Homo sapiens: one gene and its partners. The protein of the gene in region 2 purifies or fractionates together with the protein of the main gene of each other region. This does not show direct contact. Each region holds a gene or a part of one and is shown on either strand. Other genes may lie near its edges. The genes, in order: WASHC4, RPS6KA4 and GBP6.

Region 1 (3,500 bases), on a different chromosome or scaffold from region 2:
AACATCACAAATTATACCTTGTTTACACTTTAAAATTTTTAAAAATCTAGGCTAAACACTGCAATTGTTTCCACTGGTTTTTAATGAAGGTGGAGTTGAGGGAGCTCAGAACCTGTATTGGGGTGGGGCTTCAAACCACATGGGCTCCTTTGTCCTGAGGAATCTTGATATTCCTGGTCTAAGAAAGGCCCGCTCCCCTCACGCCAGTTCCTCCAGCTGGGCCAAGAAAGAACCATTACAGTACATTGTCATTCCTGGTAGGAACATGGCTGCAAACTCACATATCAAAACTGTCCAGAATGAATAACTTTCCATTTGTATTTATAACTTATTATAATAAATTATACGTAATATATATTATTTCTTAAAATAATTTTAAATGAAACAGCTTTTCACTGTTTTTGACAGAATGAATTCCTGGCTTTTTGTGCAAAATGTCATGTGTGCATATTTCATTAACAGACAAAGACTATTTGAGTAATGTATTCAGAAACTGACTATATCTCTGAGCAATCTTTAGCTGAAATAGTCTTAGAACAGTGATGTGAGTGATAACATAACAACTGCAACTCTGGAGAGTTCCTTAAGAGGAATAGGCCAAAGCAAGGAATCCCACTGCCATGAGACTGAAGGGTTGTTTGTTTTGTTTTAATGCTTTAGCCTGAAAGCAAATGTCCAATCGCCCCGCAGAGTTTTCCCAGTCACCTGGGCTGGGGAAAAGGTTCTGGCATCATGAAACACATGAGCAGAACTGAGGCAATAACTGAGTTTCTTCATAATTTAGATTATATTGATTCAAATTCTTCCAAATGGCTTTGCTAATTTATCCTTGAAAATGAACACAAATGTAGTATGTATAAATTTTCATTTAATATTGAGTGTCTTCCAGATTAATAAGCTGAAACAATTTTTTCAAGCATGTTTATTTAGTCTAGATTCAAAAAACGCCTGGATATGCACCTAATTAATAAGTAATATTAGTAATATTTAATTTATGCAACAATGTCAAGAAATAAGGTAGTTCACGTAAGTGGTCTACCCAATGAGTCACCTCTACTCTATATAAAGAAAAAAGGTGTATTTTAAAAATTAACATAAAATAAGATTAATAAAAACATCTTGTTTTATGAAGAGCTTTATATCTTGATTTATGAAAACTTCATGAAGCACGAGTAAGACAAAAAGGAGACTAGTAAACATGAAAATTATAAGGGTTAACTAGTCGCTGTATCTAGTTTTGATCTTCCAAGCAATGAGAAATGTATGCTATATAATATCCATGACAGAAAAAGGGAAACATCTGTTTCTCAGAGAAGATGATTATTCCTAAATTTCAAATCTGAGAGAAATATATCATGGGGACATTAAATATGAAACACTGAACAATGCTCTTACGCCTTAAAAAGTATAGATTCCTTTCCACCATCCTACATAGAATACAATGGACAGAATCCTTTCCTTAATGACTGAAGTTCATTGAAATCACTATCAGTTATTATGGCTATATTGCCTGAGTCTCCAGGGCCTGACTATGAAAGAAGGCAGGATGCTATTTACTACAACTAAATAGCCCCTATGATTTTACAGTTCTTTAATCATCTGTCCCATCTCATTCAGTCAACATCTAGTCATCAGCAGCTCTGCCTTCAGCAACATTTAGCTGTCCTCCTCTATTTGTTCCTTCAAATCTAATAGTTTGAGCCATGAAAGAAAAACCAAACTTGTGAAAAGTGTATTTAAATTAAAAGCAGATGATCCTGAACAAGGTTTTAAAGGGTTACCAAGTGTGAAATGCATAAACTACATAAATTCCTTTTCAATTTCACACAAGATCTATACAGGCTTTACTTTTTTTAAAAGACTTAATGCTAGGTCTGTGTTATTTTCCAAAAGGACAAAGAAGCTAGATGTCTGACCAGATAAAATGGTGCATTACTGTCTATTACTAAAGACATTTATTGGTCTTTCCAAATTTAAACCACTCACTGACCTTCCTTCTCTTTCTTTTCTTGGTTTTCTTCAGCCGCAGTCTTGTCTGCTCTGAAGAAAATTCTTGCACTGCTCAGTGAGAAATACAGCAATTCAAATTCCTAAGTAAATTTAAAAATTTGAAATAAAAACCAAAAATACTTATTATGGCAAAATACCAAAAATATATGCATTTTTATGCCTCTTATTATTATTTTTAAAAGCTCTAGTGGAAATCATAAATACAGAAACTGAAATAAGTAACCCGCCCATTTTTAAGATGTGAGTCAAATGGCTTCCAAATAGCACTCATTTTAAAATATAATCTTTTTGCCACTATTCATCTCACTTGTGAAAATGGTAGTTTCTATATGGCTTCTGCTTTTCAGACATTAAGAAGTCATGGATATCAAATGGTAAGTCAAAGCAGATGTGACTCTTAGGCTCCTCTCTACCTGTAGATAGACATCCAGTCGCTTCTGAGTGAGATTCATGGTTTGTAAGAGTTTTTCATCTTGACTGGCTGACTGTACATTCTGTTGCTTAGCAACTGCTCTTATCTCCTTCAGGTATTTCTCTCTAACAGACTGGAACCAGTGAAGTGAATCAAACTCCCGATACTGATCCAAAAGCTTTAGAATGTAAGCCACACCTGCAGGCATAAGCAAAACTAAGGTTAAATTACAGTGAGTACAGAAGTGGTATTCTACTCCTTCACCAATAATTCCCAACACTAAGCATTCTGAGTAATAATTCCTAGCATTTTAAGTTTGTCCCGTTTCAAGTTACATTTTACAGCATAAATGAATGATGGGTTTAACAAAATGGCTTAATTCCTCCTTTAAAAACAATGTAGAAGTATAACTAAAGACAAGTCAATTAAGAAGAAAATAAATAACTAACATGGCCATATAAATCACCAGGAGAAACGATATAGCTGTAAGCATAAAGAATAAAACTTTCCATGACTTGTACCTATAATCCCAATACTTTGGGAGGCTGAGGCTAGAGGACCTCTTGAGCCCAGGAGTTTAAGACCAACCTGGGCAACACAGTGAGACTCCTGTCTCTAAAAAAAACAAAAATTTTTTTAATTAGCCAGATGTGGCGATGCATGCCTGTAGTCTCAGCTACTCGGGAGGCTGAGGTGGGAGGATCGCTTGGGTCCAGGAGGTCGAGGCTGCAGTGAACCATGACTGCACCACTGCACTCCAGCCTGGGTGACAGAGCAAGACCCTGCCTCAAAAAGAAAGGAAAAAAACACTTCAACTGCTAAAAAGATGGCAATTGAGGAAGCTACAAGGAAACCAGAGAAACTAAATATAAGACGTTAAAACTGTACAACCCCAACAAAAACAAAGCCTAAATATTAGGCCAAAGTGGACAAGTGATTAGCAATACTAAGAAGGCATTCAATAAGTTATAAACTACAGAAAACAAGTATCGTCAATCATGTATTCCAGCTAAAAACACGGTAAACAACACTCATGAAAAACAAATCTATAGGCCGGGCATGGTGGCTCATGCCTGTA
Region 2 (3,830 bases):
CAGAAGGAGAAGGTCCGCTCTTTCTGGGAGGGCAAGAGGTCCTGCTTAGATGTCGAAACCTCTCCTGTGCCCCAGTGCCCCACAAGGCCCAGAGTAAGACTCGCTCAACTTGTGAGGTTGGAGAGCTGAGCTGTGGAAACTTCTTGGAGCTATTCACTTCTGCAGCCCCAGAATGCAGGCCCAGAGCAGGAAGAGGCAGGAAGGAGAAGGATTGAATGGGGCACTGCAGGCAGAGGTGGCCTCCACTCACCTCCTCCGTCAGGAACTCCTTGCTCAGCCCGAAGTCCGTGAGGACAATGTGGCCCTCGGAGTCCAGCAGCACATTCTCCAGTTTCAGGTCTCGGTAAATGATGCCGAGCTGGTAGGAGCAAGAGGGGTGCTGAGGCTTCCTCCCCGAAACCCTCCCCAGCTCCTCCAGCTCCTGGCCCTGCTCAGGATAAGGAGACCCCCCAGAGAAAGTCATCTGCCTGTAGAGGGGGTCTCCAGGGCAGAGCCACTGAATAAGAAAGGCCATTTAAGATATAAAACAAAGAAGGAGGGCCCCGTGGATCAGGCCCCAAGGTCCCAGAGAGAGGAAAGTCTGTGTGAAGAGCTCCATTTCAAGGAGGCCTTAGGAGCCAGGCCGTGAGGTTTCCATTTGAGGAAGTTCTGTGAACGCAGCCCCGAGTTCCCTGAAAGAGGAAAGCCCCTTCGAGGAGGTGCCAGGGGAGGGGACCCCACCAGGCAACGTTGAGGCTTCCTGCAAGGGGTCCAGGGGAAGCAGCTCCAATTCCCACCCAGCTCACCACTGGCCCCCCAGGAAGCCCAGGGGGAAGCCTGAGGCTGCCCTGCGTGCAGATTCCTTCCAAGGCACAGACCCAGTTTCCATAGCAACAGCCTGCGGCCAGGTCTTCACCCACCTTGTGCAGGTGTTCCAGGGCCAGCACGATCTCACCCCCATACACGCGCACCTCAGCCTCCTTGAAGTACTGGCGCTGGTAGAGGTGGGTGAACATCTCCCCGCCGCTCACATAGTCTGGGAGGTGCAGTGGAAGTCAGGAAGCAGCCCCGTCAGGTGGCCTCGCCTGCCCCCAGCCACCCCAACCCCGTTGGGATGTGGTGTGCGCTCACCCAGGATGAGGTGCAGCTTGGCATCCGTCTGGAAAGCGTAGTGCAGCGTGACCAGGAAGGGCGCCTGGCGCACCAGCTCCAGCACCGAGCGCTCGGTGCGCGTGTGCTCTTGCGTCTTGGCGCGCTGCACCAGCGCCGCCTTGCGCAGCACCTTCATGGCGTACAGCTTCCCCGCGTCGTGCCCGCCCGCCTTCCGCACCAGGAACACCTTGCCGTAGGCTGTGGGAGCAGCGAGTGGGTGGAGGGTGGGCTGTGAGCGGGAGATTGGTGCAGGCTTGGGGGGTGGGGGCGATGCCAACCCAGGAGGGTGTGCAAATGAGGCGAAGGAGCTGGGGCAACAGGCAGGTGTGCAAAAAGCTGGCAGAGCCTTCTAAGGAAAGGGTGTGCACACCCCGGGAGGGTGCCCAGCAAAACCAGGGAAAGGATGTGCAAACCAGGCTGGGGAGCATGCATCTCCAGGGGGCCTGCTGCGAGGCATGGGGGCGGGGCATATGCAAACCTGCGAGAGATCAGATGGATGTGAAAAGATGCCAGTGCAAGGAAGGGAGGCAGAGGTGTGCACCTGGCTGGGGAAGGGATGCGCAAACCAGCGCTGGGGCATTTGCAAAATGTGGGAGGGGGATCCCATATTGGAAGAAAGGGAGGAGCTATGCAAATCACTTGAGAGGGGCGCCAGTCCCCCTCCCCAGGGTGTTGGCAAATCCAGGGGGGTATGCACGCACAGGACCGTGGAGGGAGGAGTGATGTCAATGTGGAGTGCCCTGGAAGTGGGCATGCAAACTCTGGCGAGGCAGGGCGGGGCAGGCAAGGCAGGCTGTGCCGGGAAAGGGTGGGGGGCCTGCTCAGTGGCCTGGCCCAGGCCCAAGAGTGAGCAGGCAGGAGGTCAGGGGCACCGCGCCTGGGACGCCTGCCCGGTGGATGGGGGTCCTCACCTCCCGTGCCCAGCACCTTGAGCAGCTCGAAGTTCTCCACGCTCACCTTCTCCTCGTGCCCGGTCAGGTTGGCTGTGGGCACAGGGGGCGAATGAGCCCAGCCGGTCCATGACCCGTCCCGGCCTGCCCCGGGCAGCCGCAGTCAGGCCCCACACCCACCTTCTGTGATCCGCAGCTCCACGGCGCAGCTCTCATCGTCGTCCTCGTCCCCCATGGCGGGCGGGTCGCTGGGGCCCGCGCGGCTCGGGCTCCGGGCGGCGCCGGTTACATGGCGGCTCCGGCCGGGGCGGGCGCTTCCTGGTGCCGCCTCCGGGGCCGAGGCGGGCGCCGGCACCGCCTCCCGGCTCCCCGCCCTGCGCGGCCTGAGTCAGGCGGCTGGAACGTGACAGCGCCGGGCTGCCGGTGGGCGGCCGGCTGGGGCCGCCCTGTCTCCCGAGCCCCCAGGCCAGGCCTCAGGGCCGTGCGCTCCGGGACCTTACTCGACTCTCCCGGGAACTGGAAACACCCCGTGGGAGCCATCCCTGAGCCCGTGGGTAACCTGGAGCCTCTGGGGCATTAGTCCCCAAGCCAGGAATCTGCCCGGGAATGCCGGCTGCAGCCAGTGGCTGGAGGACATTAGGAGTCTGTGCCCCAAGGTGGGGGACGAGGTGCCTGGTGCTGGGCAGGCTGAGAGGGGGTCTGGATCCTGGAAGTCACCCAACTCTCAGGCAGTGGAGCCCACCCCACTCCATCGTCCTGGGGGTGGCCAGCAGGGCCCCTCTCCCCAGAGGACTGGCCTTTGCAAGGAGGAGCCTCATCACCAAGAGGGGGCTGGAGCCCGGCCTGGGACCCCATGGCAAGGAGAGGAGTGGCCAGTTTTCTGACCAGCTTTCTGTCGGGGGTGCCTGCAGAAGCACTTCAGCCCCCAGTCACCGTGCAGAGCCCACCAGGTGCCATGCGCACCTCACGTGTTCTGCTCCTGTTGTCTCCTAGCCTGGTGCAGTACCCAGCTTAGAGCCCTGAGCAGGCCTCAAGAAGAGATGTCAGTGCCACACGGGGCTGCCCCCTCTCCCCATGAGGCCCAGGGCCCCTGCTGACTGGTCCTCCTGAGCCCCTGCTCCGTCTTCTTCCTGCCTTTCCCTTCCTGACCACCAATGGGGCCACCTAGCAGAGTGGGACAGCCATGAGGCCCCACACCCTGAGGCCGGTGGGAGGGGCTCTCAGCTCCTCTGCCAGCTGGAGAGGCCAGGGTGTCCACCCCACGCCCCTGTCCTGTGAAGCCCTGGCTGAGAGGAGGAGGAACTCAAGCTGCTGCAGGTCACACCTGGGAGGCCGGACGGACCGTCCCTCCCAGCTCTGCACCCCCCAAGTTCAGGCTGCCTTATCTCAGCCCTGGGCAGCTCCACCCTCCCCTGGGTGGCCCCAGGTACCCTGACTCACATCCTGCACCCCAGCCGAATTGCCCCGCCTCTCAGGCATCAGGCTAGAGGCCCTGGTCAGAGAGCCAGCGTCCCTCCCACCTCTCCTGGCAACCCCTGGCATTAAGTGATGCCCCGCCAGGCTGAGAACTCCCTGGGGAGGGGGCTCAACCTCAAGGAGGGAGGGGAGATGAGTAGGAGGAGGATGTGAACAGAGAGAAGACAGTGCCCTGGGAGAGGGTGGGGGCGGGGCAACAGGGGCTTCACTGCCCCACACCCCTGAGCCCAGATCTTAGACCCCAATCCCTGCTGGCTACCCAGGATGTCATCCCCTCTCCACCTCACCAGGACATCCGGGCTTTGGCCGGCCGGACTGGCCAAGACCCTGGAG
Region 3 (3,730 bases), on a different chromosome or scaffold from region 2:
GAATTAGGAGAGTTCAGTTTATATTTCTCATGATGAAGCTCATCAATTACCCACAGAGCATTCTGGAAGGCTTTGAGACATTTCTGATTGTGCTCATCATAAAAAAGTATTTGTTCTTCCTACAATAAACATTATAAGATGAATTTTTGATATTTAGCTTCTTATGAATGGGTGAAATAAATAATTTCTCTCTTTTATTATCTTACTTTGAGAGTTATTTGGGAATGGGTTCTAAATTTCTATACACTTTATTTTTGCCCAAACAGGCGTTAGAAATTCTGTTTATTTTTCTGCTTTAGTGTTGTATAATTGACAAATAAAAATTATATATAATTAAGCTGTACAACTTAATGTTTTGGTATGTGTATACACTGTGAAATGATCACCACAATCCAGCCAATAATATAGCTGTTACCTCACATAGTTACCGTTTTCTTTTTTCTATGCTCTCTTTTTATTTTTTGGTGTGGTAAGAACAATTAAGATCTGTCCTCTTAGCGGAAGTGAAGGTCACAATCAATATAGTATTGTTACTTATAGTCACACTGCTGTACGGTAGATCTCCAGAGTTTATTTATCTTTCATAACTGAAATTTTGAACTCTGTCACCAACATTTCTTCATTTCTCGCATCCCCAGCCCCTGGCAACCACTATTATACTCTGCTGCTATGAGTTTAACTATTTGACTATTTTAGATTCCACAAATAGGTGAGATCATGCAGTATTTGTCTTTCTATGTCTGACTTATTTCACTTAGCATAACGACCTCAGTGTTCATCTATGTTGTTGCAAATGACAAAATTCCCTTTTTTGAGATTGAATATATATAGACGGATTCGCAGCTGAATTCTACCAGAGGTACAAGGAGGAGCTGGTACCATTCCTTCTGAAACTATTCCAATCAATAGAAAAAGATGGAATCCTCCCTAACTCATTTTATGAGGCCAGCATCATCCTGATACCAAAGCCTGGCAGAGACACAACAACAAAAAAAGAGAATTTTGGACCAATATCCCTGATGAACATCAATGCAAAAATCCTCAATAAAATACTGGCAAACCGAATCCAGCAGCACATCAAAAAGCTTATCCACCATGATCAAGTGGGCTTCATCCCTGGGATGCAAGGCTGGTTCAACATATGCAAATCAATAAACATAATCCAGCATAAAAAGAGAACCAAACACAAAAACCACATGATTATCTCAATAGATGCAGAAAAGGCCTTTGACAAAATCCAACAGCTCTTCATGCTAAAAACTCTCAATAAATTAGGTATTGATGGGACGTATTTCAAAATAATAAGAGCTATTTATGTCAAACCCACAGCCAATATCAGACTGAATGGACAAAAACTGGAAGCATTCCCTTTGAAAACTGGCACAAGACAGGGATGCCCTCTCTCACCACTCCTATTCAACATAGTGTTGGAAGTTCTGGCCAGGGCAATAAGGCAGGAGAAAGAAATAAAGGGTATTCAATTAGGAAAAGAGGAAGTCAAATTGTCCCTGTTTGCAGATGACATGATTGTATATCTAGAAAACCACATCATCTCAGCCCAAAATCTCCTTAAGCTGATAAGCAACTTCAGCAAAGTCTCAGGATACAAAATCAATGTGCAAAAATCACAAGCATTCTTACACACCAATAACAGACAAACAGAGAGCCAAATCATGAATGAACTCCCATTCACAATTGCTTCAAAGAGAATAAAATACCTAGGAATCCAACTTACAAGGGATGTGAAGGACCTCTTCAAGGAGAACTACAAACCACTGTGCAATGAAATAAAAGAGGACACAAACAAATGGAAGAGCATTCCATGCTCATGGATAGGAAGAATCAATATTGTGGAAATGGCCATACGGCCCAAGGTAATTTATAGATTCAATGCCATCCCCATCAAACTACCAATGACTTTCTTCAGAGAATTGGAAAAACTACTTTAAAGTTCATATGGAACCAAAAAAGAGCCCACATTGCCAAGACAGTCCTAAGCCAAAAGAACAAAGTTGGAGGCATCATGCTACCTGACTTCAAACTATACTACAAGGCTACAGTAACCAAAATAGCATGGTACTGGTACAAAAACAGAGATATAGATCAATGGAACAGGACAGAGCTCTCAGAAATAATACCACACATCTACAACCATCTGATCTTTGACAAACCTGACAAGAACAAGAAATAGGGAAAGGATTCCCTATTTGATAAATGGTGCTGGGAAAACTGGCTAGCCATATATAGAAAGCTGAAACTGGATCCCTTCCTTACACCTTATACAAAAATTAATTCAAGATGGATTAAAGACTTAAATGTTAAGCCTAAACCCATAAAAACTCTAGAAGAGAACCTAGGCAATACCATTTAGGACATAGGCATGGGCAAAGACTTCATGTCTAAAACACCAAAAGCAATGGCAACAAAAGCCAAAATTGACAAATGGGATCTAATTAAACTAAAGAGCTTCTGCACAGCAAAAGAAACTACCATCAGAGTGAACAGGCAACCTACAGAATGGGAGAAAATTTTTGCAATTGACTCATCTGACAAAGGGCTAATATCCAGAATCTACAATGAACTCAAACAAATTTACAAGAAAAAAACAAACAACCCCATCAAAAAGTGGGCAAAGGATATGAACAGACACTTCTCAAAAGAAGACATTTATGCACCCAGCAGACACATGAAAAAACGCTCATCATCACTGGCCATCAGAGAAATGCAAATCAAAACCACAATGAGATACCATCTCACACCAATTAGAATGGTGATCATTAAAAAGTCAGGAAGCAACAAGTGCTGGAGAGGATGTGGAGAAATAGGAACACTTTTACACTGTTGGTGGGACCGTAAACTAGTTCAACCATTGTGGAAGACAGTGTGGCGATTCCTCAAGGATCTAGAACTAGAAATACCATTTGACCCAGCCATCTCATTACTGGGTATATACCCAAAGGATTATAGATCATGCTGCTATAAAGACACATGCACATGTATGTTTATTGCGGCACTATTCACAGTAGCAAAGACTTGGAACCAACCCAGATGTCCATCAGTGATAGACTGGATTAAGAAAATGTGGCACATATACACCATGGAATACTATGCAGCCATAAAAAATGATGAGTTCATGTCCTTTGTAGGCACATGGATGAAGCTGGAAACCATCATTCTCAGCAAACTATCACAAGGACAAAAAACCAAACACCACATGTTCTCACTCATAGGTGGGAATTGAACAATGAAAACACTTGGACACAGGGTGGGGAACATCACACACCAGGGCCTGTCGTGAGGTGGCAGGAGCAGGGAGGGATAGCATTAGGAGATATACCTAATGTAAATGATGAGTTAATGGGTGCAGCACACCAACATGGCACATGTATACATATGTAACAAACCTGCATGTTGTGCACATGTACCCTAGAACTTAAAGTATAATAAAAATATATAAATTATATATATATTCAATAAATATATATATGCATGCTATGGATAGTTTGGCTGTGTCCTCACCCAAATCTCATCTTGAATTGTAGTTCCCATAATCCCCGCATGTCGTGGGAGGGACCTGGTGGGAGGTAATTGAATCATGTGGGTGGTTTCCCCATGCTATTCTCGTGATAGTGAGTAAGTTCTCATGAGAGCTGATCATTTTATAAGGGGATTCCCCCTTTACTTGGCTATCATTCTTCTCTCTCCTGCTACCATGTGAAGAAGGATGTGT

What was found.
Region 1: the proteins of RPS6KA4 (region 2) and WASHC4 purify together in Homo sapiens (affinity purification with mass spectrometry, with the first as the bait; one large-scale study listed by BioGRID). This does not show direct contact.
Region 3: the proteins of RPS6KA4 (region 2) and GBP6 purify together in Homo sapiens (affinity purification with mass spectrometry, with the first as the bait; one large-scale study listed by BioGRID). This does not show direct contact.

What each region holds. Positions count from the first base shown.
Region 1 is NC_000012.12:105,163,231-105,166,730, reverse strand, and holds part of WASHC4 (WASH complex subunit 4), read right to left. Parts: intron 2,621-3,500; coding exon 2,424-2,620; intron 2,091-2,423; coding exon 1,991-2,090; intron 1-1,990. UniProt on the Homo sapiens protein: Acts as a component of the WASH core complex that functions as a nucleation-promoting factor (NPF) at the surface of endosomes, where it recruits and activates the Arp2/3 complex to induce actin polymerization, playing a key role in the fission of tubules that serve as transport intermediates during endosome sorting.
Region 2 is NC_000011.10:64,357,662-64,361,491, reverse strand, and holds the start of RPS6KA4 (ribosomal protein S6 kinase alpha-4), read right to left. Parts: upstream 2,331-3,830; 5' UTR 2,257-2,330; coding exon 2,202-2,256; intron 2,115-2,201; coding exon 2,043-2,114; intron 1,330-2,042; coding exon 1,111-1,329; intron 1,016-1,110; coding exon 900-1,015; intron 359-899; coding exon 251-358; intron 24-250; coding exon 1-23. UniProt on the Homo sapiens protein: Serine/threonine-protein kinase that is required for the mitogen or stress-induced phosphorylation of the transcription factors CREB1 and ATF1 and for the regulation of the transcription factor RELA, and that contributes to gene activation by histone phosphorylation and functions in the regulation of inflammatory genes.
Region 3 is NC_000001.11:89,370,370-89,374,099, forward strand, and holds part of GBP6 (guanylate-binding protein 6), read left to right. Parts: intron 1-3,730.